2 linked regions of the Homo sapiens genome follow. The protein of the gene in region 1 purifies or fractionates together with the protein of each later gene. This does not show direct contact. Each region holds a gene or a part of one and is shown on either strand. Other genes may lie near its edges.

What was found.
Region 2: the proteins of BCKDHB (region 1) and ETFDH fractionate together in Homo sapiens (co-fractionation; one large-scale study listed by BioGRID). This does not show direct contact.

The regions. Positions count from the first base shown.
Region 1 is NC_000006.12:80,203,903-80,207,733, forward strand, and holds part of BCKDHB (2-oxoisovalerate dehydrogenase subunit beta, mitochondrial isoform 1 precursor), read left to right. Parts: exon of another isoform or gene 1-1,568; intron 1,569-3,831. UniProt on the Homo sapiens protein: Together with BCKDHA forms the heterotetrameric E1 subunit of the mitochondrial branched-chain alpha-ketoacid dehydrogenase (BCKD) complex.
Region 2 is NC_000004.12:158,678,465-158,682,295, forward strand, and holds part of ETFDH (electron transfer flavoprotein-ubiquinone oxidoreductase, mitochondrial isoform 1 precursor), read left to right. Parts: intron 1-2,002; coding exon 2,003-2,143; intron 2,144-3,643; exon of another isoform or gene 3,644-3,730; coding exon 3,731-3,831. UniProt on the Homo sapiens protein: Accepts electrons from ETF and reduces ubiquinone.

The sequences.
Region 1 (3,831 bases):
ATTGATACAAAGAAGGTTAAGCACTCTGTTTGTAATAGTCTTATCAATTAAGTCTAGCTACATGTAAATTATATGTACCTAGTCTTAATAGATAAGTACAATAGATATATGTACGATTAATAGATAGATGTACAATTACATGTAAAATTGTAGGAAACAATGACATGTATTATTTTTTCTTGATATACTGCTATAGTATAGGGCATTTTATATTTACCACTTTTAAGAGCTTTGGCATTTTCATAGCTTTTACAGGCTCTTTCTTGGGTTAGTTACATGAAAATAACCTGCAGATACTACTGTAAAAGTATAGCCTAGGATGTTTTTAGGTGAAGAGTGTTTTATAATTTAGTAGAAGATGTAAGATTTGTTATAGTAAATGTTTGTGAAGACTCACTTGACACCATCTAAACACTTGACATGCTTACAAATGATCCCGAGCCATTCTATTTGTAGTTGCTGTAATTAAGAGCAATATTTCAGATTGAGTTATTCATAGCTTCATGAAAATAACGCTTTTTGCAGGCATTTTCAAATCAAGTCAGACACCGGGTTTTCTTTCAAATAGCCAGACGTTCCAAATTATAGTTAAACTAGAGTTGTCTTCTTGTTTGCAACATATATCCACCACTTATCCTGGGGTTTGTATTTTTAGTGTAGATGGTGCTTTTGTATGGGGATATGATGTTTTATGATGGCGCAGTGCGGAGGGCATTCACATATGGTCAGGGCAAGCACTTTTAGAACTTTATTTACGTATCTATCTATATATATATAAATAATACCTTAAACATTCAAAAAGCATTTGTAGCAGCTTATTGTAAAGCACAAGTATACTAATACTTCATTTTGGCAACCGTGGAAGCAAAGAGAGTAGAGTTAGGGGCAGAAAGAAGGGTGAAGTTGTTTATATTTACATCGATAGCAGTTTGCTTTTGCATCACTGTGTTAAATCTGTTGGTCGCATCTTTGTCTGATCCTAGAATGCAGATCCATTTTCCTTAGGGCTCTATCCTACTGGGAAAGATGAAAGAGGAGACAAGCGATCTCTACTGAATGAGAAAGTGATGCATCAGACCTCTGACTTATTAGCGTCATTATTTTGTTTTGTTTTGGGATGCTTTCATCCGGTTGTGACAGTGAAAGCCAGCTTCTTGATTGCTTTGGGTCTATTTGAGACTCTCTTCGTTGCTGATGATGGTACCTCTCCTGTTTTCTTTTGATGTATCAAAAGAGGTAAAATTTTGATACTTAGCTTTTTCCTGCTAGGATTTAGAGATGATTTTAAAGAAGAGGGCCCTATAACCAAATATTTATATGGAAAATGAGGGTTTTTTTTCCCCCAGAGTGAAGCTTTTTTAATTCATCTTGATGAATTCTATAGTAACCAAAATTTATATTATAATCTCTTTTAATTAGCTGTGTTTTATCAGTTGTTTTTGTCTTATGACTCATTAGATCGCTGAGTTTTATTCGTTGTGTGTCAACTAAACCCCAATATATATCTTTTGGAACGCCTGATCAAGAAAAGAAAGCATATTAAAGGCAAAAACGATTCGTTGAACACACATTATCATACTCTATACACTAAAATGCCTCTGGGACACTTGAGGAATTCATACTTCTTGCTTAATCCTTGATACATGGTTTGGAAGTTATAAACCAAAATAAATATTTGCTCGGGGATAGAGAAAGGAGCAGAGTCTTTGACTGTTGCTCAAGGGAGTTAAAAAATTAGAGACTTAAATGGTCCTAGAAACCACAGCTAGTTTTTCCACTCAATTCTGAACTTGATATTAAAAAGCTAAGCTGGAGACTTCTGAAAAGCACAGTAGAAAATTCTTGAGTTTTGAAGTGCTTAAGAGACAGAGACCTACCCTGTGCCATGGGTGTGTGTGTGTGTGTGTGTGTGTGTGTGTGTGTGTGTGTGTGTAGGTGGATTGGCTTAAGAGAATCAGCTGTGTGAGTTCAAAGCCCTGAAATGAGTGGCATGTTGACACCGATGACCTATAGCTGCTTTTTAGTTGGCTACACTTGCTATTTGGTCTCAACCAGGTGTGTAGAATCCAGGTATATAGAACTCATATTTTGTGGGGCTGTAGTGACAAAATTGAAATTTTGAGGGGATTTAAACACATACTTGACCTTTTATTTGCCAAATTCTAAAGGTGTGAATGGTGAAAGGTAAGTAGAAAATATCTGGAAAGTGAAGCTATCACTTGGTAATGAAGTGACAAAGACCCATCATACTCTCAATTGAAAGCCATGGAGAGTTAGGTCTTACAATTAGAGGCAAACCAGATGTAGACCAGGTCATCTCAAACCCACAATACAGCCTCTACCCCTTTGAATTTTTTATTGAATTATGTACTTTTACTCTATCTGCGCAGCAGAGCCAAGGAGTCAATCCTCTCATTATCTGGAACTTCTATAAACCAGCATTCAATAAAAAACTAAGTAGATGAAGAGACAGGAGTATTTGATCAATAACAAAGGGGAAAGAAACAATAAAAAGCAGAAGCACAGCTGATCCAGATATTGGAGTTAGCAGACAAGAACATCTTGATTGTTATGCTTAGGAACATAGAGAAAATAAGGAACAAAAGAGGTAAGAGGGTGGAGAATTACCCTAGAAAGTTTGTGTGTGTGTGTGTGTGTGTGTGTGTACATGTATGTATATGGATCAAGTAAACTTTGTGGAGCCATCAGAGAAATATATATCTGACAATAAGAACTCAATGAATAGGCTTATAACATATCGGACTCAGTAGATGATAGCAATAATGAACTGGAAGGCTAGTTAATAGAAAATGTCCAAATTGAAGCACAAGTCAGAAAAGAGGATAAAACACATTTGGGATCTGGTCAAAAGATCTGTCTTATATACAATTTGAATTCCAGAAAAAGAAGAGAGAGAAAATCTCTAACAGTATCTAAAAAAAAATTCTCATGAAGATTTCAGAACATCATTACACAAGCTTTGTTAACTTTTAAGATTATATTCAAAGAAAACCACACCTGTATGCACAATGGCATAACATCTTAAATTGCTGACTGTGCTAGCCTACAATTCTATATTCAGTGAAAATATCTTTTAAAAATTAAGATGAAATAAAAATAGTTTAGGCAAACAGATATTGAGAGAATTTATCACTAGCAGGCTCTCACTAAAAGAAGGTACTGCAAGGGAGCTCCCTTTGGCAGAAGGAAAATGATTCTAAAAGAAAATATGGAGGAGAGCATACACTATAGCTTAGTATTGATTATCCGAAACAGTAGTCATAATTTTCTGTGAAAGTTTAAGTTTAGTGAAGTTTAAGTTAAATATATGGAATTGAAATGTAAGACAATAAAAACACAAAAGCTAGGGGGTCTTACATGGAGTTAAAATATTCTGTTGTTCTAGGATTATTATGAAGTGTAATGTTCTGGTTAGGTTATAATCAAGGATACAAGTTATAATCTCCAGTGTAACAACTGAAATAACAGGGAATGAATGCATATCTAGCAAGTTAATAAGAGAACTATAAATTAATAAAAATATTTGGTTAATCCAAAATAAATAAGTATGAAAAATGGATGGGTCAATAGATAACAGATGATAAGATGATATAAACCCAAATATAGAAGTAATTAAATTAAATACAAAAAGATTAAATAAACCTAGTAAAAGTCTAAGATCCTCAGACTTCATGAAAAACAACTACCACCACCATGTGTAGCTTAAAAAAGGCATACTTTAAATATAAGGACATCAAAATGTTGAAAATGAAAGGATGGAAAAAGAAAGCTGGTGTAGATACACTAATTTCAAATAAAGCATTAAGGCAA
Region 2 (3,831 bases), on another chromosome or scaffold:
TCAATATGTCTTATTGCTGGTAACATTAAACTTGATCACTTGCTTAAAGTGATATCTGCCATATTTCTCTACTGTAAAGTTAACATTTTTCACTTTCCATTCTCTACTTGTTAGAAGCTACTCAATAAGTTCATCCCACATCACTCAAAGGGAGGAGAGAATTGAAGAATTTATGGATATATCACCATCTTTTTTTTTTTTTTTTGAGACAAGGTGCTTGTTGCCCAGGTTGGAGTACAGTGACGTGGTCCTAGCTCACTGTAGCCTCGAATTACTGGGCTCTAGTGATCATCGTACCTCAGCCTCCTGAGTAGGTGGGACTGCAGGTGCATACCACCACACCTAGCTAATTTTTTTACTTTTTATTTTTTATTTCTGTAGAGAAGAGGTCTTGCTATATTGCCTAGGAGGATCTTGAACTCCTGGCCTCATGCAGTCCTCCCGCCTTAGCTGAGATTTACAGTCATGAGCCACTGTGCCCAGCCAACCATAGTCTTCTATACTTTGAACCTACCCTAATAAAATCTTCGATCAAATATAATTCATTTTGACCTAGGGAGCAGAGTATACTTTTTTTCTGAATGGCTTTCTAGCTATCTCTGCACCATTTAATGAGTAACCATTTCTTCTCCCTAATTTGAAATGGTATCTTTATTATATACCATATACCTATGTGTATTCTATTTCTGAACTCTTTATTCTTTTTTTAATTATTCTATCCCTTCTCCTATAACAGACTTCTAATGAATATAGCTTCAAATATAAGTTTCTATATCTGTCAAGAGTGGTTTCATGGGAGGATTCTTTGTCTTTTTTTAATGATAGGGACGATTATCAAGATGAACAGAGCCTGAGAAGGGAGTCAAAATTGAAGCTCAGAAGGGATGGTATCAGATGGAGGAATGTCTCTAGACAACGGGAGAGATAAGCCTTCTCATCCAGCTAGAAAGATTAACCCCAGTGGAGAAGAATATAGTCTGTTTCACTATATTCATTGAGTACAATCAACGGGAGAAAAGACATCTCTTCTGCTATAAACTGAGATAATGAACAAAGTATGGGCACAAATACAGATTATATTAGAAGTTACTGCCAAGGAGTTGAGAAAATTCCCATCTAATTGCTTCTGTCTTTATGAGGTTTGATGCTAGGGTACCTGCCCTGGATAAAGGAAAGAAGAGGTGGAGTTGAAGGTTTGAGGACAACAGAGAAGGTTCAGTGAACATTTTTGCAGATAAATCTTTGCATATTTCTGTTCATTTCCATAAAATACTTTTTGCTGACTCAAAAATGTATACATTTTTAAGGATATCAGAAGATACTGTGGCCAGGTGCAGTGGCTCACGCCTATGATCCCAGCAATTTTAGAGGCTGAGGCAGGCAGATCACTTGAGGCCAGGAGTTCGAGACCAGCCTGGCCAACATGGCAAAACCGCATCTCTACTAAAAAAAAAAAACAAAAATCCAAAAATTAGCTGGGTGTGGTGGTGCACACCTGTAGTCCCAGATACTCTGGAGGCTGAGGCGTGAGAATCGCTTGAAACCAGGAGGCAGAGGTTGTGGTGAGCTGAGATTGCACCACTGCACTGCAGCCTGGGTGACAGAGTGAGACTCTGTCTCAAAAAAAAAAAAAAAAAGAAGAAGAAAAAGAAGAAGATACTGCCTTAAGAACCTGACCATAAAACAAAGTTTGTGCTTAAAGCCATTGACCTAACACGGTGATTATACTACTCCATATTACTCTCAAAGTGTTCAGCTTTCATGACTAATCCATAGTTAAGCCTGACATGAGCTAAATTGAATAAATTTGCTTATTAGTTTTAAAATATTTAAGATTTGAAAACATTGCTTTATGAGAAAAAGCTATTCAAAGTGTTCACCTAGGAAAGATTATAGTATATTTCACTATACTCATTGAGTATAGTCATTCACTTATATTTTTTCAGTCTACTGAGGAAAACTAATTTTAAGGAAGATAATAATTTTCGTAATTTTTGTGCAGCATATCAGTGCTTTCATGCCTTAAAAATTAAGAAAAATTATCTACCTCTATGTGCTACAAGATGGTCTTCAACTTCTACTGTGCCTCGAATTACTACCCATTATACTATTTATCCCCGGGATAAGGACAAGAGATGGGAAGGTAAGTAATAATTTGTGTACAATTCCTGAGACTTTTCTGGATACTTTGTTTTCATTTTGTGGAGGAGAGTATTAATATTTTTCATAATTTAAAAACATCTAATAATATTTTGTGGCTTTACCAAGTCACATGCTGCATAATGACCCTTCAGTCAACAACACGACAATTATAATGGTAATCCCTTGACATTATAATGGAGCTGAAAATTCCTATCACCTAGTGACATCTTTTAGAACATAGCTTCCAGACCATCGTAGCTCAACACATTACTCAATTATTTGTGGTGAGTCTGATGTAAACAAACATACTCTACTGCCAGTTCTTTAAAAGTCTACCATATACAATTATGTACAGTACATGATACTTGATAATAAACGACTGTTACTGGTTTATGTATTTACTGTATTATACTTTTATCATTATTTTAGAGTGTACTCTTACTTAATTTTTTTAAAAAGTTAACTGTAAAACAGACACAGGCAGGTCCTTCAGGAGGTATTCTGGAAGAAGCTACCATTTGCATAGGAGATGACAGCTCCATGCGTGTTATTGTCTTTGATGACCTTCCAGTGGGAGAAAATGTGGAGGTGAAAGATATTGATGATCCTGACCCTGTGTAGGCCTAACTAATGTGTGTGTTTGTGTCTTAATTTTTAATAAAAGAGTTTAAAAGGTAAAAGGAAAAAAAATTTTAAAAAGAAAGAAACTTATAGAAAAATGATATAAAAACCATTTTTTGTACAGCTGTACAATGTGTTTGTGTTTTAGCTAAGTGTTATTACAAGAGAGTCAAAAAGTTTAAAACATTTAAAAGCTTATAAAATAAAAACATTACTGTAAGCTAAGTTTAATTTACTGACGAAAAAATTTTTTTATAAATTGCGTGTAACCTAAGCATACAGTGTTTATGAAGTCTATAGTAGTGTAATGTCCTTGTCCTTCACATTCTCACTGCTCACTCAGTCACTCACCAAGAACAGCTTCCAGTCCTGTAAGTTCTATTCATGGTAAGTACCCTGTACAGATATACCATTTTTAAATATTTTATACTGTATTTTTGCTGTACTTTTTCTGTGTTTAGATGTGTTTAGTTACATACATACTATTATAGTTGCCTACAGTGTTCAGTATAGTCAGTCACATGCTATATAGCTTTGTAGCCTAGGAGCAATAGCCTATACCCTGTTGCCTAGGTGTATCATAGGCTGTTCAATTAGTTTGTGTAAGTATACTCTATGATGTTTGCAAAAGGGCAAAATTGCCTAACGATGCATTTCTCAGAAAGCATTTCTGTCATTAAGTGACTTGTGACTGTATTTTACACAAGTAAATATTTGCTAAATGTATAATAATAAATCTCAAAGCCAAGAATTAGTTTATGGAAACTGAAATAAAGTATGTACTGGAACAGAACCTAAGAATATAATCATACTAATACAGTAATATGCTTAATATAATTATTGTGCAAAACACAGGGAGAATTTCCATAAATAATACTCTAAAGCACAGTGGATATTTTTTAACTGTCATGTGATTTATCATGTGATTATTGGGTTATATTAATCCCAGAATTTTTATTTCTCCCAGGAGTGAACATGGAAAGGTTTGCAGAAGAAGCAGATGTTGTAATAGTTGGTGCAGGCCCTGCAGGGCTCTCTGCAGCTGTTCGTCTAAAACAGTTGGCTGTG